Homo sapiens: one gene and its partner. The protein of the gene in region 1 interacts with the protein of each later gene in a biochemical or structural test. Each region holds a gene or a part of one and is shown on either strand. Other genes may lie near its edges.

The links.
Region 2: the proteins of TRPC6 (region 1) and ITPR3 form a complex in vitro, tested with the Homo sapiens proteins (one study listed by BioGRID).

Annotation. Positions count from the first base shown.
Region 1 is NC_000011.10:101,577,303-101,593,885, reverse strand, and holds the start of TRPC6 (short transient receptor potential channel 6), read left to right. Parts: upstream 1-9,878; 5' UTR 9,879-10,382; coding exon 10,383-10,552; intron 10,553-10,618; exon of another isoform or gene 10,619-10,711; intron 10,712-16,583. UniProt on the Homo sapiens protein: Forms a receptor-activated non-selective calcium permeant cation channel. Probably is operated by a phosphatidylinositol second messenger system activated by receptor tyrosine kinases or G-protein coupled receptors.
Region 2 is NC_000006.12:33,680,322-33,687,321, forward strand, and holds part of ITPR3 (inositol 1,4,5-trisphosphate-gated calcium channel ITPR3), read left to right. Parts: intron 1-7; coding exon 8-133; intron 134-233; coding exon 234-359; intron 360-2,202; coding exon 2,203-2,323; intron 2,324-2,885; coding exon 2,886-3,076; intron 3,077-3,698; coding exon 3,699-3,847; intron 3,848-4,035; coding exon 4,036-4,144; intron 4,145-4,276; coding exon 4,277-4,367; intron 4,368-4,452; coding exon 4,453-4,622; intron 4,623-5,037; coding exon 5,038-5,212; intron 5,213-5,321; coding exon 5,322-5,506; intron 5,507-5,731; coding exon 5,732-5,932; intron 5,933-6,087; coding exon 6,088-6,198; intron 6,199-6,687; coding exon 6,688-6,783; intron 6,784-6,904; coding exon 6,905-7,000.

The DNA of each region.
Region 1 (16,583 bases):
CAAAACTTCTCAGGAAGTATCCATCCAGAGGTTCTGTTATCCTACTGCCAAGGGGCTGCCTGCAGCCTGGAATCTGGCACTAAAGAGGTTCCGAGGGCCCACGTCTCCTGAGAGGCTGTGGTGCAGTCTGGATCCAAGCCATGGTGAGAGCAGCAGTGACACGGAAGGTCTCCAGTACCCACCAGACAACACTGCCCCAGTGCGACCTATTGTTAAAGGAAAAGATAATGAACAAAGGTGATGCAGTTGTTGGAAGTAGTAGATAAGGGCTTTAAAGGAGTTGTTATAACTATGTGCAATGAAATAAAAGAAAATATTAATAGAAAATATCTAAAGTAAAGGAAGATATAGCTTGCATATATATAGAAATAAAGAATAGATATGCTTTTATTTATCCTTATTCTTTATTATCTTATCCTTTATGTATAAAAAAGTATCCCAAATTTTGGATGTAATATCTGAAATTTAAAAATTTATTTCATCATCTTAGAAGAATTGAGATGGCAGAGGAAAAGAACAGAGAATTTAAAGATGGACCAATAGAAAATATATAATACAAAGAAGAACCAGAAAAATAACACTGAAATAAACTAAACAAATAACACACATGTGTTTATTAGGAGTCTGAGAAAGAGACAAGAGATTGGGCCAGAATAAGATATTTGAACTTATAATCACCAAAATTTTTATCCAAGTTTAGTTAGGCACAGGTTTTCAGATTCAAGTAACTCTGTGCTTGCTTTTGAGCCATCAATTCCACTTCTAGGAATTCATACTAGAGATGTACCTCTGTATTAGTCTGATCTCACACTGCTAATAAAGACATACTGGGTAATTTATGAAGAAAGAAGTTTAATGGACTCACAGTTCCACATGTGTGGGAATCACAATCATAGGAGAAGGCAAAAGAGGAGCAAAGCCACATCTTGCATGGAGGCAGGCAAGAGCGAGCGTGTGCAGGGGAACTCCCCCTTTATAAAACCATCAGGTCTTGTGAGCCTTACTCACTATCATGAGAACAGCACAGGAAAGACCCTCCCCCATGATTCAATTACCTCCAACCAGGTCCCTCCCGTGACATGTGGGAATTATGGGAGCTACAATTCAAGATAAGATGTGGGTGGGGACACAGCAAAACCATATCAATCTCCAATAATATGAAAACACACATGCACAAGACTATTCATTATGGCATTATTAATAGTTAAAAATATTGAGTACAGTTTCAATATCCACACATTGGTTATTGTTTGAACAAATTATGATTAATTTTCACTAAGGGACAGCAAAATTTTCTTAAAAACGAGGGAGGAATTTTTGGCCCACACAGTCTCTATTTCAATTACTGAACTCTGTGGTCGTAATCCAAAAGCAGACATAAAAAAACATACAAACAATTGTGCATGGCACATCAATCAAAGATCATTTACAAAAACAAATGGTGGGTCAGATTTTGCCTGTGGGCCTTAATTTGTAAATCCTTGATTTACACAATGGATTTATACAACAATACATCAATTTAAAAAAAGATTGAAGAGGATCTCTATAAACTGATATGGAGGGATTTTCAGAGGCTGATCAAAAGTGCCAAATCTAGAATCATTTGAGCAGCAAAATAAATTATGATGATAATGGATAATAACCACTTCAATCAAATATCTGTCCATGAATCCACGGATAATGAATGAATGGCAGAAAAAGAAAAAAGTTTTCATTCACTAACCATGCATTCATGAATATGAATTTTATGTATTTATACATATTTGTGTATATATATTTATTCTTCACAGATTATTACTCTTATTATATTATATATATTATTATTATTATTTCTGTGCTGTCTATTCTGTTCCATTGGTCTGGGTGTCTGTTTTTATGTCAGTACCATGCTGTGTTGATTACTATAGTTTTATAGCAGATTTTGAGATCAGGTAGTGTGATACCTCTAGTTTTGTTCTTTTTCTTCAGGATTGCTTTGACTATTTGGGGTTGTTTCTGTCTCCAAAGAGACAGAGCCAATATAATTTATAGAGAGATATATGAAAAAGGATTTATTAGAATTGGCTCACTTTATTTTGGAAGTTGAGAAATCTTGCAGACCATCTTTATCAAGTGGGAGAACCGGGAAAGAGAGTAATGTGTCTCAGTCCAAGTCCAAACTGCAGAACCAACAAAGCTGTGGTGTGATTTTCAATCCTGATTGCTGGAGAGCCTGAGGGCTACTGGTATGAGTCCTGGAGTTCAAAGACCAGACCACCTGGAGTTCTGACATCCAAGGGCAGGAGAAGAAGGTGTCCTGTCTCAGGGAGGGAAAGTGAGAATTCTCCCTTACTCTGCCTTTGCTCCATTAGGGCCCAAAACTGATTGGATGATGCCCACTCACATCGAGGGTGGATCTTCCCCACTCAGACCACCAACTCACATGCTAATCTCTTCTGGAAACATCCACACAGACACACCTAGGATAGCCCGATCATCTAATCAAAACCACAACTACCTGGACTTCCCTTTTAGCAAAAGAGGGATCAGTTCCTTCTGAAACATTAAGAATAACGCCTTACCTGCTATCTGAGTATGCCTTAATCAAGTCAAGTCCAAAGTTAACCATCACAGGGATTTTTGTGGTTCCATGAATGCTTTAGAATTCTTTTTATTTCTGGGAAAATGTCACTGGAATTTTGATGGAGAGAATCTGTAGATAACTTTGGGGGAGTATAAACATTTTAACAATATTAATTCTTCTAATCCCTGAACATGAAGTATCTTTCCATTTATCCATGTCTTCTTTACTTTCATTCTTCAGTGTTTTATAGTTTTCAGTGTCAAAGTCTTTTGCCTTCTTTGTTAAATTTATTCCTAAGTTTTTTTTTTAACTATTGTAAATGGGATTGTTTTCTTGATTTCATTTTTTGGATAGTTTGTTTTTTTAATATAAATGCAATTGACTATTGTATGTTGATTTTGTATCCTGCAACTTTACTGTATTGTTTATTAGGTTTAAGTGGTTTTTTTTGGTGGAGTCATTAATATTTTCTAACTATAAGATTATGTCATCTACAAACAGGAACAATTTAACTTTTTCCTTTCTAATTTGTATGCTTTTTATTTCTTTCTCTTGCCTAATTGCTCCGGCTAGAATTTCCATTATACTATATTGAATAGAAGCAGGAAGAGTGGACATCCTTGTCTTGCTCCTGATTTAGAGGAAAAGATTTCAACTTTTTACCACTCAATATGATATTAGTTGTGGGCCTGTCATATATAGCCTGTATTGTGTGATGTACATTGCTTCTATATCTAGTTTGTTAAGGGTTTTTATCATGAAAGGATGTTGAGATTTGTAAACTGCTTTTTCTTTAACTATTGAGATCAGGTGGGTTTTGTGCCTTATTCTGTTAATGTGGTATATCATGTTTATGGATTTGCACATGTTGAACCATCCCACATTCCAGGGAAAAATGCCACTTGATCATGGTGTACCATCCTTTTAATGTATTGTTGAATTCAGTTTGCTAGCATGTTGCTGAGGATTTTTGCATCAATGTCATTGAGGATATTATAACTTTCTTTTCTTGTAATGCCTTTGTCTGGCTTTGGAATCAGGGTAATGTCAGACTCATAAAATGAGCTTAGAAGTATTTCGCCTGCTTCAGTTTTTTGAAGTAATTTGAGAAAGATTGGTACTAATTCTTCTTTAAATGTTTGGTAGAATTCACCAGTGAAGACATCAGGTCCTGGGCTTTTCTTTGAAAAATATTTTTGATTACTGATTCAATCTTCCTACTTGTGATTGGTCTGTTCAGATATGCTATTTCTTCATAGTTTAGTCTTGGCTGATGGTAAGTTTCTAGGAATTTATTTCTTCTAAACTATCCAATTTGTTGGTGTATAGTTATTTGTAATAGTCTTCTAAGGTTCTTTGTATTTCTGTATAAGTTGTAATGTCTCCCTTTTCGTTTCTCATTTTAGAGTCTTCTTTCATTTTTTATTAGCCTAGATAAAGGTTTATCAATTTTATCTTTTCAAAGATCCCCTTTTAATTTTGTTGCTCTTTCATATTGCTTTCTAAGTCTCTATTTTATTTATTTTTTCTTTGATCTTTGTTATTTCCTCCTTCTACTAGCTCTGGACTTAGATTGTTCTTTTTTTTCTAGTTTTTTTTTTTTTTTTTTTTTGAGAAATGATGTTAGGTTGTTTATTGGAGGGTTTTCTTCTTTTTTAATGTAGGTGTTTATTGCTACAAACTTTTCTCTTAGAACTGCTTTGCTGCTTCCCATAATTTAGTAAGTTGTGTTTATATATCATTTGTCTCAATATATTTTTTTATTTTCCCTTTGATTTCTTCTGTGATCCATTGGTTGTTCAGAAGCATGTTTTAAAATTTCCAAATACTTGTGAATTTTCCAGTCTCCTTCCTGTTATTTATTTCTAGTTTCATGCCATTGTGGCCAAGAAAGATACTTGATATTAATCTTTTCTTTTCTTTTCTTTTTTTTTGAGACAGTCTCACTCTGTTGCCCAGGCTGGAGTGCAGTGGCGCGATCTTCTTAAACGTGTTGATTATCTTTGTTTAGTAGGTTTTACAACTTCTTTAATTACATTTGACTTATTAACGCATACCATTTGTGGCAAAAGTACAAGATAGAAATCTCTTATCCAGTTTGATTTATTCCACATTCCTTCACATCTCCCATTGACTTAAGATGTGCTCTTTATCATACCATAAAATCTTTTGTATCCTTTATTCTTTCCATTAAATTCTTTACATATTTCTAGTTTGTGTGTACCAATTTATATTATTTTTGTGGTTTCTTTAAATCATTCGATATTTTTTACACCAAGTTTCTTTCATTGCTTTTCTTTTTTTGGATTTTTCTTTCTTTTAGATATTTATTTTTAGAAATGTGAAAAAATAAATAGTAGAGAAAAACCTGTCCTTCTATAGGAAGACATAAGTATTGAAACTACTACATTCTAACTAAATCTGTAAATTTAATACAAGTATAATGAAACTATCAATAAAATGTGTTATATAATTTGATACAGACCTCTGATTATTTTTCAATTAGGTCTTAGTGAAGATTTATAATTTTCTTTTCATAGGTTTTACAATTCTCTGTTAAATATATTTCTGCTTATATTATATTTTATAGCTTTTATTATATTTTGGCTATTGCTGATATAAAGGAAAACTACTGAATTTTTAATATTTACTTTTATTATCTGGCATTGTACCAAACACATTTCTTACTTCTGAATCTAACTATTTTTAGCTAAAAATCTTGAATTTTTTATAGTAGACTATTATATAGCCTGTGAAGTAATAGATTTATGTCCTCATTTCAAACTTTTTCATCTTATTTTTTATGTTTTATTTTACTTATTGTTGAAGTTCTTAGCTATGAAAAATAGTAATGATAATGACAAACATCTTTGATTTCTTAAATTAATGGAAACATCTCTGGTGTTTCTCCATGTTGTTTTTATCTAAAATAGTTTTCTCTGCCATGTTAAAAATGTGTCTGTTACTCTTAGTTTTCTAAGCTTTTTCTTATTTCCTTTTAAAAAATGAAGAATAGATATTTTATTAACTTTTTGGATCCATGGAGATGATGATTAGTTTTTGAATTTTAGATTTTTTCTTACAGGATCTTAGTGTTCACTTAATTTTCCATAAGTATATTAATTTTCCTTGTAGTATACGTGGAAAATTGAGGTCCAGGTTGTATTTGAACATGTCCAGTGAAAGAAAACAAAAACAAAAACAAAACAAAACAAAAACCAGCAAAAACAAGCCAAAACAAAAAACCAAAAGCAGCTCAGTCCATTCTTGGTATGTCTTCATTTACTAAACTTGGGTGACATTGATGTATAAATCAACAATCTTTTCAATCGTCTTCTAACTATTTATGAATCACTCCTTTGTTACCCAGTTCTTATTTTTCAATCGTGCTGTCAAACATATCACACGATGCTCTTGGTAAACAGTTTACTAAAAATGTCCCAATAATTCCATCAAAAGAGATATTAACATAACTTGTTCTCTAAGTGAAACCATATTAATCACAAGTGCTTACAAAATAACCATATGATAATGTTAGAATTTTGGACAACATCTATGTCAAGCTCAAATTAGAGCAAAAATGAAATTAGCAATCTGTAGATTCTTCTATTTGTTTCTGATGGTTAATAACATTTTAGCTGCAAGACAGATACTAAATGTAAAGTATTATAACCCCTTTATTTTAAAAATTAAGAAATTGAGGTTCAAAGATATAGCAGCACCTGCTCAGATTTTACTCAAACTGGAGTTTGCAGGGCACTTTCATTCATAGAGAATCAGCAGCCCCTCTGAAGCTTCTGAAGTGTTTCTGTTTTCACCCGGTTGATTCTACATGTGATAGGAGTCAGGGCTCAGGGTTTCCATGCTTTAAAATATCCAGATGAAATCACGACTAAACTTTTATCTGTACTTCTGGCCAACCAACCCCAAACTGCATTTTCCAGAGAGACTCCTATGTTAGTGGTTTTCCATCAGCAACAGCAACTCACAAACTGCAGCTTTGTGTAACTTTTGAGCTTCTTGAGTTATTAAGCATTTAATGTTTTCTCAACCTTTTGCTTCTAGTGGCAATTTCTTTTCCTTTCCCTTTGGGCTCCTTGCCTGAGACTTCCTAGAGCAGCGGTTCCCAACCCCCAGGCTATGGACTGCTATCCATCTGTGGCCTATTAGGATCTGGGCCACACAGCAGGAGGTGAGCAGTGGGCAAGCCAGCGAAGCTTCACCTGTATTTAGTATTTACAGCTTTTTCCCATCACTTGCGTTACCGCCTGAGCTTTGCCTCCTGTGAGATCAGCGGAGGCATGAGATTCTCCTAGGAGCATGAACCCTATTGTGAACTGTGCATGTGAGCAATCTAGGTTGTGTGCTCCTTGTAAGAATCTAATGCCTGATGATCTGTCACTGTCTCCCATCACCCCCAGATGGGACCATCTAGTTGCAGGAAAACAAGCTCAGGGATCCTATCAAGTCTACATTATGGTAAGTTGTATAATTATTTCATTATATATAAAACAATGTAATTATAATAGAAATAAAGTGCACAATAAATTTAATGTACTTAAATAGTCTCCAAACCATCCATCCCACCCCACAGGTCCGTGGAAAAATTGTCTTCCACGAAACTAGTCCCTGGTGCCAAAAAAGTTGGGGACCACTGTTCTAGAGGACAACCATTTTTCTTTACTCATTTTTCTCCTATCAGCTTTTCAAAACACTGTGTTATATATATATTATATGTATAATATATATACACATTATATATATTACACACATGTATATATGTAAAATATCTGTTTTTGTAAAATCAAACTAATAATCAAACAGTGCAGATATATATAATGAGGCAAAGGTCCTCTCTCATTAACATCTCTTCCTCTGCCCACAGAGACACATAACTCACCTTCATCCTCACATCTCAGAATTAATGACTGAGTGTTTTTTTATTTCAATAGCATGAACATACTACATAAACATACATAACCTATAATTGCATAGCAATTTCCAACTCTGTGAGAACTATCAGTCCTGTGCTCACCCAACAATTTTTTAACTTTAAAAACTATTGTTTCTTTGTTCACTCAGCTTTCTTCATGACTCCAGATCTACTCAATACTTCCATAGTTGATTCAAAAATTATATTATTTAATCGTATTTTGTCTTTTTAAAAATTGGTTTCACCATGTTTTTAATGTAAAGTGATAAAACTGCATAGATAACTATATAATGTGGGAAGTTAGAGATTGAGGCGTAATTGTATACCAGCTTACTGATGAAAAAACTGAGGCAGAGAGAGATTTAATGACCTCTCTGAAATCATGTAACTTCAGTTAGGGAAGTGGCCGAAATAAAAATCCAGGCTTTGAGACTTCTGATCTAATGATTCCACTTCATCATGTCATAAGCTCTTTCAGAATCTTCTAACATTTGTACACCACCTTATTCCTTCTGGGTACTCAATAAATGACTGGGCTTGTTGTTCTAGTACTCACAATAATTCAAAAAAAAAAAAAAAAACAGAGGAAAACATGTCTTACCACATGATAAATTGATGTCAGAATAAGTTTACTGTAGTAATTTTTTCAGTGTGAAGGTTGTTACCTGTGAATGAAAAACAGTGTAACAACAGCAAAATAAATTCTGTCTCAGTTTTTGTTTTTTTTCTTTTTATGTGAAAGGTTAACACTTCAACTGACACTACAAATGTTTATTAATTTGGCTTTAACTCACAGAATTTGAATTGGGTAGAAAACCTTTGAATATTACTTTTCCCATGAATGTTTTCCCCATACTTGGTGTTGCCAAAGAGATTACCTTGGCACTGTTTAACTAAACGTTTATTGATTAATTCATTCAAGCATCAAAGCTAATGAATACTTACAGATAGCAGTTGCCACAAACAAATTTTAGGAAGAATATCTTATTGCTAGGTATAGTAACTAGAAAATTATAAGAATTTTAAATCATGGCTCCACATGTTGAAAGATCAAAAAGGAAGGCTGTTAAATCAGAAAGAACAGACTTCAGAATGATGCAGGTTGTTTGTTTCCCCAGGGAAAATGTTCTTTCCAGGGCCAAGAGCATTTTCTTATTTTTTCTATATTCCTTCCATCCATCCATCCATCCATCCGTCCATCCATCCATCCATCCACCCACCCACCCACTCACCCACCCAAGCATGCATGCATGCACCCTACACACCTGTGTCAAATACGAAGCTGGATCCTCAGGACACAGTGGTTTCTGCTCTCTCTGAGTTTCAGTTCTAAATTTAAAGGCAAACTCAGAAGTTTCTAAATGTGTGAGCTCTTTTCCCTTCTATCAAATCAATTGCATTTTCCCACACTTCCAACATTCATTTTGTTGTCCACCTGTTCATGGGAAGCAAAGGCACCTTTGCAGACAGATTTCAGTCTGGCTTTCTTTCATCCAATTGCAATGGGCCTCTGATCTTTTCATGGCTGGCTGCTTGCCATGCATGTCTCAACTTAACGAGCACCTCCTTGGAGGGGCCTCTTTTAACCATCTCATCTGAAGTAGTCATTCACCAGCTGCCATCACATCAACCTGTTTTATTTTCATTGTAGCATTTGTCCTTGATATTTTTTCATTTGCTTATTTAATTGGTCCCCCTTTCTGCCACGAAAGCTCTATGAGGGCAGACAGGTGCCTCATCTGCTTCTTTGCCTCCGAATTCTGAAATGATTTGAAACGCAGTTGGCATTCATTAAATATTTGTTGACTTAATGAATGGATTCTTAATTGGCTACTACTGCTTAAAGGTCTACAAATACTGATTCATCCTTGTTGACAAGTTTTTACTTCTCACACGTATGCATATTAATCAGAATTTAAAACTAAGTCTTAAAAATAAAACAGCTTGGAAACGTGGGAAACATCTGGCAGAGAAATCATTCTTGCATTCGCAGTGACGGAAGGAAAATTTTTTCTCTGAAGTAAGCAGGTTGTTGGCCTCTTTATCGGTATCATTGGAAAATGCTTGCCTATTTTTGTTGGTTTTCTCAGGAACTGGGAACATCTGGCGTTTGGAACATAGAACGTTGTTCATTTTTAAAGCAGAGTCATAATAACTTTATGAGTTGAGGGTAAGAGAGAAAATGACCAAAGAAAATGAAGGCAGTCTGGAGAAAGAAGAGGCTCGTGTCCCTTTTAAGGAACAGGTTTCCTTGGCTCTTTGAGAGTGGTTCTTAAAGGAAGCTTCCTACGAAGTCCGCAGTTGGTATCCTTACTAAATGAGCCAACTAAATAGTGGAGGGGAAAAAAAGAGTGCGTGCCTGGCTCCTCCTAGTTCAGGCTCATACCGCCTCCTGAAAGTTGTGGCTACAGGACAGGCTTTGGCTGCTTTCTAGAACGTCGCTCGGATCCCTTTAAAGGTGGGGATCTTGACGGAGAGTGCGGGGGATGAAGGCGGGAGCTGAGGGCTGGAGAGTCTCTGTTGACATAGTAACTCTTCAGCTCCGTCTCCCTTGCTCTCCGCTCTTACGCTTCGCTACCACCAGCGGCCCCGCCTGTGCCCTCTCTGCCCGGGCGCCCCAGACGCATCCTCGCGGGGTCTCCTCGGCCTGACCTGCTCAGGTCAAGATCCTCTTTGCACCCCCTTAAGTGGTGACTTTTCCCCGGGCCAGTGGGCGAGCCACTTGCGGCGGGCGTCTGCACCCCCTGCTTCACCGTCGTCCCCTGGGCACCGGTCTGCCCAGGTCCAGTTCGGCCGCTGACGCGAACCCTCCGCACCGGGTCCCCGCTGGAACTGCCCACTCGGCTCCCCCGGGAGCGGGGCCCAGGCCAGTCGGGCGTTCCCGCCATGAGCCAGAGCCCGGCGTTCGGGCCCCGGAGGGGCAGTTCTCCCCGGGGCGCTGCCGGAGCCGCTGCGCGGCGCAACGAGAGCCAGGACTATCTGCTCATGGACTCGGAGCTGGGAGAAGACGGCTGCCCGCAAGCCCCGCTGCCTTGCTACGGCTACTACCCCTGCTTGTGAGTGCCGGCGACGCGGGGCGGATCGGGCGCGGGCTGCGCGGAGGGAGGTTGTGCGCTCGCAGGAGTGGCCGAGTCCGTCCGCGCGCGTCCTGAACCCGCGTGTGTACCTCCTAGGACGGTGCTGGGAGGTCCGCGAGAGCCAGGGCTGGGACCTGAGTGAGTGGAGGGGCGCGCGGGGAGTGGGGGAGGCGGGGTTGTCTAGGTTTGCTCCTCGTAGGTACGCATGGATATGTTTGCCCACGAGAGTGAGACCGCATAGTAACACCACCATTGCAGGTGATTAGATGGGTGGTCGATTTCTCCAGACCCCTTCATCCTGCGCTCTACAAGAGACAGGATCGCTACGTAACAGGCGGGATCTGAACAGGGGGCTGATTCAGATGTGCGCCCGGGTGACTCTTAGCCTATGTGGGGGAGAGATGACTAGAACTCCAAGGGTTGGAGCTGCCTGGGTGCTGGGTGCGCCCGGCGGTCTCCACGCTTGGCTTAGCGTTTCGGGCTGAGCGCTGAGGTCCTTGGACCGTGGGACAGCCAAAGTTAGACCAGGACCTCTCCCCGGTCCTGGGGCCTTGGAGTGAAGACAGAAATAGAACCAATAGGACTCTCCACCGGCGGCGCGAACCTTTTCACCCGGGGCGTCTGGGGAGACGAGCCTGTTAGGGGCTGGGAGACTCACGGGCTATAGAAGTGAGGGCGTCGGGTCGTTTGTATTGGGCTGTGGGTAACTGCAAGCTTTTGTTTATGAATCTAGGGTATTTTTTTTTTTAGCTGGGTGGGTGGCGGGAGGGGAGGTAGGGAGTAAGCAGAGTGGACTCCAGAAGAAAAGACTCCGCTTCCCCGACACCGCTGTGACCACATGTGCAGCGGGCAGATAGCATTTCTGTCCCATTGCCCCTTTGGGTGATTGGGTAGTCAAGTTTCCTGACTTGTCACATCCACCCGCAAGCGGTTTCCCGAGGTTCTCAGCTCTATAAACAGCTTTAGTTGGAGGGAGGATTCCACCCCATAGGCGCCTGGCAGACCCTCCTGATAGATGGGTGCTGTGTCAGGGCTGCCCAGCCTCAAGCCCTGCTGCGGTGCCCTTTCGAAGTAAGAGGTGAGCCGCAGTAAAGGGAGCATCTAACTTTTCTCAAAGATAAAGGAGAATAGTTAGAACTGGTTTCATTCATCTGTGTGCTGTGCAAGTTAAGAGCATTTACAATTATGTATATGTTTTTCTTTTTAAAAGTTCAAGACATAATTCCCATACCACGTAATTCCCCCATTTAACTTGTACAATGCACTATTTTTAATATATCCATAAAGTTGTACAGCCACCACTAATATCTAATTCCAGGACAATTTCATCATCCCTCAAAGAAATCTTACACTTGATGTGTTAAATTAGAAGATATTTTTATGTCTCATAGTACAGACTTTTCCAACTTTAATGGCTAGCATGCAAATCATGTGGAAATCTTGTTAGAATGCAGATTTTGAGAAGGCAGGTCTTAGGTACAGCCCAAGATTCTCCATTTCTGACATCCCTCAGATGATGACAAGGTTGCTAGTCCGTGGACCACCCTCTGAATAGCAAGGTGATATATGACAAGAAAAAACAAGAATAGAAAGAAAAATAAATAAATCTTGGATATTCTGAAATGCTGCTATTTTAAAATGTACTTTGAAGGTGTAAGTTTAAGACATAGATGGAATTTTTATTGGTTAAACTTGAGATCTCCGATGTCTGAGGGTTATAGGTTTGGCAACATTACCTCCTGGCTAAACTAGGTGACTAAAAATTTATACGGCTTTTTAAAAATTAGACTGTTCCATGAACAAAACCTTTTTTCATTCTGTAATCCATATAATCACTTGTCGCTGTGTCTGTCAAAAAATGATTTGATTAAAAACCTTGTGGTTATATATCAGTAGTGAGAGAGACTAAATAAAGTAATAATTCCAAGTTGTCCTGAAAACTCTTCCCAGTGCTTTCTTCAAATGTGGCTTACTGCCTAATTTGTCTAATTATTGTTATTACATTTTTTAGCTACAAGTTCTCACTATGTTACCCAGGCTGTCCTCAACATGCAGTATTTAGTGAATATTCCCTTAGTTCAAGAATCCTGGACTATTCTTAATAAATAGAACTGAGCAGCAGAGTGATGAACAGAAATATTTTAATGTGCTTCAATTCATAACATCCACCCTCTGCGTGATGTCAGAGGTACTATAATACATGTAAGAGTGAGCCATGCTCTAGAATTTGGGTTTGGTTTTATATGAATCTATTATTTCCAAAAGGTTCTATAGTTACATTTCATCCACTGTTTTCTCTGACAAGATTTTAAGTTTTTCTAGTTGAATAATCAACTAACAGAAAAATTTTAACCAAGAAACAAAAGTACTTCACACCTATGATGTATGAGAAAGAGCTAAAGAAAATTACTCCCTCTGGTAGAGTAGAAATCAACTCTTCCATATGCTTTTGACTTGTGATTTATACAATTTCATAGTGGGAGGTGTATCATTTCTGAAAGTGGCAATCACTAGTACATTTTAGATATGAATATTGCCATTTCTCAAATCATTGAGATTTTCCCTTATAAGATCCCAAGTCTTTGTAAGTTGTCATTTCTGTGGAATAAATTCTATGACTCTTGCCAAAAATTTCTGTTTCATAGTTTTCTTATTTAGAAAAATTTTTTACATATATTTATGGGGCTTCAGTAGTAATGGGGCTTCAGTAGTAATGGGGCTTCAGTTTTTATTTATATTTATGGGGCTTCAGTTTTCAGTAGTAAAACTGAAAATTATGGTAAATTATCTTATTTGTGAGCAATTATGTGCAATAAGGCCTTAATAGTTAAATAAGGCCTTAATAGTTAAAATAGTAATAAATTGAAATGGTGTTCAGAAGAAAATGGCTCAGATTTTCTCTTTATTCAACTTTCAATAGCAAATCAATTAATATTCTCTATTGTGATCAATTTGTAATGGTGATTAGCAAGAAAGGCCCATGTCCTGCCAAGGTCCCAGGAGGCATTTCAGATTTCCTTTATTTAGAACTTTAAAGGTATGTTTACAGTTCATCACTGCTGAACTTGGGGAAGAATCCCAGACATTTAAAAAAGTTAAGCATTTCTAAAATCTCAGGATCTGAAAACACAGTCCAACTAAACTTTCTGCTTGGGAAGGAGTAATTGATTGATTATGAATAATGAAACAGTAAACTGTAAACTAAAGCACTGGCAATTCAGCTGACTGAGACAATCTGAAAAATTTATGGTTACAGACACCTGGCAGTACTGGATAAAAGATTTTAAATGATTTTAAAACATCTCCCAATTTTGTGAAAAATAAAAGGGTAATCTACCATGTGCTAAGAACAAAGACATTAAAAGCGAGTATAGATTGTGAAGTGATGATGTGGTTGCCCTGTGAGTTATGCGTCCCAGTGACGAAGAAGCCTGGAATCTGATGTCCATATGAGACAGAAAGAAGGTAAACTCTTGGTGCCAGATGAGGCAGAGAGCTGGAACTGAGATACCCCTGTGCCCTGCATAAAGCCATTAAATAAAAATGTAGGCTAGAAATATATGCCCACCAGCATACAGTGAGAACAGGAAACTTTAACAGTAAGAAGAAAAGAACACTCCCCTTGAGAATATCGTTTTTGGGGTTTTTGTTTTTATACCCTACCTAACTAGCCTAGAAATAGTCAACATGGAAAATACTCCTGAGGTTCCTATAAGAGTAAAACACAAAATCATTATGAAAGACTAGTATCAAGCATCTAGATTGCCTAGGCTTTTCAAGAAGAAAGCAAGTCCTGCTAAAGATATGCTTGCTATAATGAATAACAAAACACACAAGGAAACAATCGACCAAGAGTGAGAGTCAGTGGACCATGGACTCAATCGACCATGAGTGAGTAGATATAAGACATGCAGTAGTTAGTGGATTTTTTAAAAAGTTGAGATAATACAACCACATGAAAAAGAATCTTTAAAAGTACATATAAATGTTGACAATATAAAAGAATAAATCAAACCTTAAGAAAAAAATGACATTTTTAAAGAAAAGGACAAATAGAACATCTATAAGTAAAAAATACAATTCTTAAAAAAAATTAATGGAAGGGCTAAATGCAGATTAGAACATAATTGATGATAATACCCAAAATGCAGAGACATAAAAAATATTTTGTATGAACATCGTTAAGAGTAATGGAGCTAGAAGGTAAGAGTTCCAGGAAAAGAAAACATATAGAAGTGGGAGAGGCAAGACTTGAATAGATAATGGGTAAGGATTTTCCAGAAATAATGAATTTTCATGTTTATGAAGTATACCAATATTATTGTAAAACAGAAAAAAAACCCCATTTAAACATATCATTTAAATTGCAGAACACCAAAGACAAGAGGAAATACTAAAAATTAAAGAAAACAGAGATTTGAATGAGAGAGTTTTAAAATTCAAAGTATTTACAGTGGAAATGCACTCATAATATATTTTGATATTACCTTGGTTAAAGAATGTATAGCTTGTAAGAACTATGGCTTTTCCATTACATAAAAGGTTTACTCTCTTGTTATTAATGGAGTCAGTGCTCCATTGCTGATAAGGTCTCCGATGGATATGTACTAAATATTTTTAAAAGGTGACTTATTGCATCACAGTCTTAGAGGAAACTCAAAGTGATTCTTAATTATATCCTCTCACATGAAAAAAACAAAAAATGACTTTTAAAAAATGGGTCACAGATCCTTTAAAATTTTTATTGACTTCAAGAGGGTTTTGGGTGACCTGAACCCCATTTATGAAAATAAGATCCAGAGTTTGAATTCCCAGTTTAAGAAAGGTAATGTAATGTTAGAGACCACAAGTAAAATCCCCCACATATTGTTTTCTTTTCTCCAGGCAAAAAAAGTTAGTATTGAACACATTGATAATAAGGGAATGAAAAATTCAGACTGTAGGCTAGAGAATCTTTCCTGATATTACTTGCCAATAGGATAACTAGTCTCTTAAAGAAGTTTAAGATTGAAGAACATGGACTCAGGCCTATGCATCATATTAAATTATTATATCCTTGTTATCTCTCCCTTGTTTTTGGCAACTATGTTCATTGAAACATCTGTTACACATTTTTACATTTATTTGTTCACACGTCCTTTTCCTCTGACTAGAATGTAAGCCACAAGAAGTGGGTCTGTCCTTCATCCCCCTATCTTAACACAGTGCCTAGCAGAGAGAAGGTACCATTTAATCTATTCCTCAACAAAGAGATTTCCTCCTCCTTGATATTTATTCAAATAAGGAATAAAATGATGCCAGCTACTTTAATGAAATAGCATCTGGATCAGCTAAGTTGGGCAGAAGAGTGAATGTCCATATCAAAAGAGATACCTATATCTTGTATTCCAGCTGCCTGTCACAAAGACTCATCTTTCAGGGAATCTTTCACCAATCACTACTGCCACCAGCATACTACTCTTCTTTTAGCTCTCTAGCCTGAGGCTCTTCCGTTAAAGTTCCCTCTGCACACCTGAGGCGAGGCTATATCTTTACCAAAGAGAATTAATAAAAAGGGAAAAACTCCTGGCTGGCTATAACTGCTCTTCCAGCTCATTTATGGAGTCTCCTGGGGATTGACCCTTGCCTGGCCCCAAGCATTATCTATCTGGCAGCGAGCGTTCTTGTTTTCCCTCTGCAGACCGTCCTCAATCAATCTAGTCCTTTGTCCTAGCCCAGACTGAAGAATGACTGCCTCCCCACCTCCCGCCACAACCTTTTTCTTTGGTGTAATATCTATTTTCCAAACTTTATTTCTTTTTAAAATTCTCCTTCTTTCCTAGATGATTGACATTAGATATGTCTACTCCTTTAAGCAAAGATACCACCACTGACCTACAGAAGTGTGGCTTTACTCTCTGACCCCAAAGGGGCAGTCACATCAGAACATGACAGTCCAGCAGCAGTACGAGGTATTTCCAAATAAAATTAAAGGGCTGATTTTCTTAACAAGACATATTTATTGAATGGT
Region 2 (7,000 bases), on another chromosome or scaffold:
TGCCCAGGTGAAAATGGCCTATGTGAACTTCGTGAACCACTGCTACGTGGACACGGAGGTGGAGATGAAGGAGATCTACACCAGCAACCACATCTGGACGCTCTTTGAGAACTTCACCCTGGACATGGCCCGGGTCTGTCCCTGTGAGGGGTGTGGGTGAAGCCCCCCAGGAGGTGTGGGAGTGGAGGGGCCCCATGTGAGGAGCCCCCAGCCATCCCTCTCTCCTGCCTCAGGTCTGCAGCAAGCGTGAGAAGCGCGTGGCTGACCCCACCTTGGAGAAGTACGTGCTGAGCGTTGTGCTGGACACCATCAACGCCTTCTTCAGCTCCCCATTCTCTGAGAACAGCACTTCCCTGCAGGTGAGCTTCTCCTCTCCCACCACCCCAGGGCCGACTTGCCTAGCTTTTGTGAAGGGAAGGGGGGAAATAAGAATACATATTTATATTTGCTTATAGTACAGAAAGAAGTAACAAAAGGATACATAAGTGTATTGGTTATCTTTTTTTTTTTTTTTTTTGAGATGGAGTTTCACTCTGTCGCCCAGGCTGGAGTGCAGTGGCGCGATCTCTGCTTACTGCAAGCTCTGCCTCCTGGGTTCACGCCATTCTCCTGCCTCAGCCTCCCGAGTAGCTGGGACTACAGGTGCCCGCCACCACGCCCAGCTAATTTTTGCATTTTTAGTAGAGACAGGGTTTCACCGTGTTAGCCAGGATGGTCTCAATCTCCTGACCTCATGATCCGCCCACCTCGGCTTCCCAAAGTGCTGGGATTACAGGTGTGAACCACCGCGCCCGGCCTAAGTATATTAGTTATCTATACCGTGTTAACAAATTATCCCCAAACCTAGCAGTTAAAACAACAAGCATTCGCTATCTCAGTTTCTGTGGGCCAGAATGACGGTGGGAATGGTACCATCCAGCAGGAACTCCTAACTCCAGTGGGTGGGCGGATCCCGGAGTGGCAGCACTTATTCACCAAAGATAAGGCAGACGTGCCATCCATGGGATGGTACAGCCAAAGCAGGGATCACGACAGTCTCCCTGGCAGGATCCTTCGTGCTGGCTAGTTGATCATAGTGATCTTAGAACTGAAATAGGCAGGCAGCCTTCTGAAGGCCTAAGCAGAAGGGCTCCAGGCCAGTGTACAGAAGCCTGATTTGAATCTCGAAAGATTCATGGCTCCTTGGTCAATCCCCAGATTCCCAGACTCGAGCCAGTGCTCAGCCCAGAGCCCCCCTGAATGAAAGCGAGCCAGGTTCCCTTAAGGAAGGGCCCTGCTACATGACCGAAATCAAAGAAACACTGGAAGGATACAAAAGAAACCCACAAAAGGGGCTACCTAGGGGCATAGGAGCTGGGGTGGGGTGGGATCGTGCTTCTAAGTCTGGGGGGAAAAATGCTGAGTCCTGCCTTCTCAGGAAGGGTGGTGTATTTTGACACACATTGTTTGGGCCCTGGGATCGCATTGGGACGATGGAACTCTGGTAATTGATATCAGCTTTCCCCATCCTTGATCAGCTCCAGGGCAATGAGGGTGATGGGGGAGAGACTTCTCAAAGTGTTATGTTTTTTTTTTTTGAGACGGAGTCTCACTTGGTGCCCCAGGCTAGAGTGCAGTAGCACAACCTTGGCTCACTTGCAACCCCTGCCTCCCAGGTTCAAGCAATTCTCCAGCCTCAGCCTCCTGAGTAGCTGGGATTATAGGCACCCGCCACCACGCCCGGCTAATTTTTGTATTTTTAGTAGAGACAGGGTTTCACCATGTTGGCCAGGCTGGTCTCGAACTCCTGACCGCAAGTCATCCACCCACCTTGGCCTCCCAAAGTGCTGACATTACACGTGTGAGCCACTGCGCCCAGCCTCAAAGTGTTATCTTTTAAATAACCTTTTGGTTTTTCAACCATGTAAATCCATCACCTTTTTATGACATTAATTTTTTTAAACATTTTTTAAAAGGGTCAGCAACATGGCTATGAGCCCACGGCCTTGGTGAGTTACAGGGCTGCCGTGTACAGTTGGGCAGGTCGTGCACTGCTGAAGGGAATACAAGTACCTTTTTCCAACTGGCACAGAGGCACATGGTGGCTAGTGAAGGCTCCGTCTCTCCACCCATGCCCATTCTGATTGGGCCCTGGTTCCTGGACCTGGGGTTGCCCAGGGTGGGGGCCTGGGCTGCAGCAGCGGGCTCTGTGACTTCTTGCAGACACACCAGACGATTGTGGTGCAGCTGCTGCAGTCTACCACACGCCTCCTCGAGTGTCCGTGGCTACAGCAGCAGCACAAGGGCTCCGTGGAGGCCTGCATCCGGACCCTCGCCATGGTGGGTGAGTGTGCCGGGGCACTGGCCAGCCCCAAACCACTCCTCCTGCCGCTCACAGTGGGGACGCCTGCCCTCCTAATAAACACTTTATCCCTAAGCTCGCCCATCTCCTGCTCCCAGGTGGTTGTCAGTAAGTTCTTCTTGGCGTCTGCCTCATCCTGGCAATTGAGAGAAGCTGTTTTCTCCTCTGGGTCAGTTCCCCAGAGAAGGATGCTCGCCGACATTCTCCAGCTAGTTTTTTATGGGTATTTGCAGATGGGCTCAGGCAGGAGCAGGCCTGTGGATTGTTAGGGACAGTTGGGGAAGAAGAGAGGACAGGTGAGAGAGAGGAAGGGGAAGTCAGGGTAGAGCCGGGGGGAATCAAAGAGGCAGAAACTCCTTTTACCCAACAAGGGGAAGAAAGCCTCTCAGTCCCTCAAGCATAGGCCGGGGTGGGGGGGGTCTCTGTCTCCCAGACCCTTGGTCTAGTTCACTCTGTCTCCTGGTGTGGCAGCCCTGAGCCTGGCCTCTGGCTGGCTGAACTGCCCCCGCACCAGCACTCCAGCACTCCCTCCCTTCCCACCCAGCCAAGGGCCGGGCCATCTTGCTGCCCATGGACCTGGATGCCCACATCAGCTCGATGCTCAGCAGTGGAGCCAGCTGTGCAGCTGCCGCCCAGCGGAACGCCTCCAGCTACAAGGCAACCACGCGGGCCTTCCCCCGCGTCACCCCCACCGCCAACCAGTGGGACTACAAGAACATCATTGAGAAGCTGCAGGTGGGTGTGGGGCTGCCTGGCATCTGCCTCGGGAGCTGCTTGGTTGAGTCAGCAGCTCCCCTACTTTGGAGGGGCAAGTTCTCGGGGAGTGTTTCTTCCTGTCCTGCCCACACTTCCAGGAAGGGGCTGGTTGGCTTCTCTACACTCTGGGGCTGCTAAGGGCCGACCCAGCAGCAAGGGACTGGGGAACCTCCTTCCAGAGGAAGCCTGGAGAACCCAGAGGCCTGCTAGTGGGGTTGGAGCTCATGAGGGGGTCGGGACCACCCCTCACTCCTGCAGCGCCCTCCTGTCTATGCAGCACATTTCTGTGCGCTGTCTCGTTGGCCTGTAGAGGGGGTGTGGTGGATTATTTTCCCCACGTGGCAGGAGACTGAGGCTCAGAGAGGCTAAGGGGTTTGCCCAAGGTCACACAGAGCTGGGAGAGAAGCCAGGCTTGGCAGCTCCCAGCCAGGGCTCTGAGCAGACAGACATCACGCTGTGTTCAGGGTGTCTCTGTGGGTGTGGGCCCCTCAGACAGAGGCAGGGCAATCTGTGGGGCTGTTTGGCGTTTGGGTCGGAGGAATGGCAGTCACACCCGGGTCATTTCTTGGGCCTGGCAATGACTCTGCCCTGCCCACCCCAGGACATCATCACAGCCCTGGAGGAGCGGCTGAAGCCCCTGGTACAGGCTGAGCTGTCCGTGCTGGTGGATGTCCTGCACTGGCCTGAGCTGCTCTTCCTGGAGGGCAGTGAGGCCTACCAGCGCTGCGAGAGTGGGGGCTTCCTGTCCAAGTGAGCGAGACACTGGGGCATGGGGGCAGCAGGGGTGCAGCGGCAGGGGACAGAGAAGGGCCCGGTGGGGACTAGACAGGCTCACTGGGTCAGAGGGCCTGGGGGTGTTCCTGCCTGGGATGGGGTGGGGAAGTAGCTGGAGGGAGGCAGTGTGGGGCTGCCCTGAGCTGCCTCCTTGGCCGGCTCAGGCTGATCCAGCACACCAAGGACCTCATGGAGTCGGAGGAGAAGCTGTGCATCAAGGTGCTGCGGACCCTGCAGCAGATGCTGCTCAAGAAGACCAAGTACGGGGACCGGGTGAGTGCCCTGGTGGGGCAAGTGCTGGGTGGGCCAGTCAGGAGTACCCAGGGGCTCAGGGTCAAGCCCGTCAGGCCAGTGGTCAGTGGTGGGCTGTACCCACAATGGGGCCTCACTCCCATCCTCCCCCAGGGCAACCAGCTGCGCAAGATGCTGCTGCAAAACTACCTCCAGAACCGGAAGTCCACCTCGCGGGGGGACCTTCCCGACCCCATAGGCACTGGTCAGTATCACCTTCCCCTGCCCCCGGGCCCTCCCTTCCACTCTCCTGTCACACCAGCTCTCCCTCAACCGAGTCCCGCCTCCAGGCCTGGACCCAGACTGGTCGGCAATCGCAGCCACCCAGTGCCGGCTGGACAAGGAGGGGGCCACCAAGTTGGTATGCGACCTCATCACCAGCACCAAGAACGAGAAGATCTTCCAGGAGAGCATCGGCCTGGCCATCCACCTGCTGGATGGTGGCAACACAGAGATCCAGGTGTGGGGGGCCTGGGGCCTGGACATGCCCTCCTTTGCCTCCCTCCCTTTTTGGAGGAGGTGGGCCTTGAGTTGGGCACTGAAGGCCGAGGAGGGTGTGAAAGAGGAGAGGCCTGAGCAGTGGCTGAGAGGTGAGAAGAGTGGGCATGATGGGGGCAGGGTGGTGAGGAGACGGGCTCAGGCCTGGCTGGGGCAGAGGGGTATGCGGGGGTGATGAAAGGACCACGTGACACAGGAGCAGATATGGGGCATGGAGCCGCCCATGGGTGGCCATGGATGCTAGCCACCAGCACCCAGGCCTGCAGCCAGGCCCCTGCAGCCCCAGCGGCCCCAGCAGTGTGGTGTGCCTGCCCCACGCCCTGAGTAGGAGCAGGGCCCAGTGCTGAGGTTGTTCCCTGGCCACTGTCCACCTCCAGAAATCCTTCCACAACCTGATGATGAGTGACAAGAAGTCAGAGCGCTTCTTCAAGGTGCTGCACGACCGCATGAAGCGGGCCCAGCAGGAGACCAAGTCCACGGTGGCAGTCAACATGAATGACCTGGGCAGCCAGCCACATGAGGACCGCGAGCCAGTCGACCCCACCACCAAAGGTCAGGGGTCTGAGGCAGAGGCACGGCGTGACGGGGATCCCAGGATAAGATGTGCAGGGGGGTGGCCAAGGGGGTGGGCAGCTCCAGCCTCACCAGGTCTCGCCCACAGGCCGCGTGGCCTCCTTCTCGATACCTGGCTCCTCATCCCGCTACTCGCTGGGCCCCAGCCTGCGCCGGGGGCACGAGGTGAGCGAACGTGTGCAGAGCAGTGAGATGGGCACATCCGTGCTCATCATGCAGCCCATCCTGCGCTTTCTGCAGCTGCTGTGTGAGAACCACAACCGGGACCTGCAGGTGAGTGCCTCGCCACACACCTGCCCCTTCCCCCGCTGGCCAGCCGGCATGCAGACTAGGCAGTGTGGCTGGTGTCCCTCTATGGCAGGTGTGCCCTGCCCTGGGCACTGCTGCTTTGTGGCTGGTGGTTCCCCTACCCCTGCAGCACACAAGATCGTGCTTCCCAGGCCAGCCTCCCTCTCCGTGCTGTAGCTGTGCTGTGCCCAACCCTTCTGTGCCCCGCAGAACTTCCTGCGCTGTCAGAACAACAAAACCAACTACAACTTGGTATGCGAGACGCTGCAGTTCCTGGACATCATGTGCGGCAGCACCACGGGCGGCCTGGGGCTGCTGGGGCTCTACATCAATGAGGACAACGTGGGCCTCGTCATCCAGACCTTGGAGACCCTCACTGAGTACTGCCAGGGCCCCTGCCATGAGAACCAGGTGAGCTGTCCTGGTGGCATAAGTGGCAGCCAGGGTGGCAGTGTGGACATGTGGGTAGATGGAGCCAGCTGGGGCAGGGAGAGAGGCTGAGGTCTCTGGAGCTGCCACTATTCTGAGAGGGCCTGGGCCCTGTGTCCCCCACTGCCTCCTGCCAGACTTGCATTGTGACTCACGAGTCCAATGGCATAGACATCATCACCGCACTGATCCTCAATGACATCAGCCCCCTGTGCAAGTACCGCATGGATCTGGTGCTGCAGCTCAAGGTGGGGCCCAGTGGCAGGTGTGTGAGTGCTGGGTGTGCATGTGATGTGCATGCATGTATGTGTGACTTGTGTGTCAAGTGTACATAGTGGTGTGTAATGTGGGTGTTAGCATTGTGTGATGGGGCATCATCTGGATGCACAAGTGTGTGGTGTGTGCAGGGTGTGTGTGTAATATACGCATGTTTAAGCATGCTGGAACATACACTCACTCTGGATGCAAATATATTCTGGTTTAGCTGAGGACTTGCTATGTGTGTGTCTGCTGTCTGGGTAGCTGAGTGTTTGCCACAGCGGGGGTGAAGGCAAGCCTATGGGTGGGCTGGCTGTGCAGGATGCTTCTCATTAAGCCGGGGGGAGGGAGGATGGGAAGGTCATGGCACCTGACCTTTTGTTGGATGGGAGAGCTGTTATGGAGAGGAATGAGGGAGAAGTTGTCAGGGGCATGGTGTCCTGAGACTGTGGCCTGCCTCCCTCTGCCCCTCCACCCAGGACAATGCCTCCAAGCTGCTCCTGGCTCTGATGGAGAGCCGGCATGACAGTGAAAATGCTGAGCGAATCCTCATCAGCCTGCGGCCCCAGGAGCTGGTGAGGCTGGGCAGGTGGGCAGGCGGGCGGAACCAGGTGGAGTGTGTTGGGATGGGGATGAGGGCCCGGCTGGCCCTACCGCCCTAGGAAGAGAGCATTGGAACAGGCACTGCCCCTCCAGGTGGACGTCATCAAGAAGGCCTACCTGCAGGAGGAAGAGCGTGAGAACTCGGAGGTGAGCCCACGTGAAGTGGGCCATAACATCTATATCCTGGCG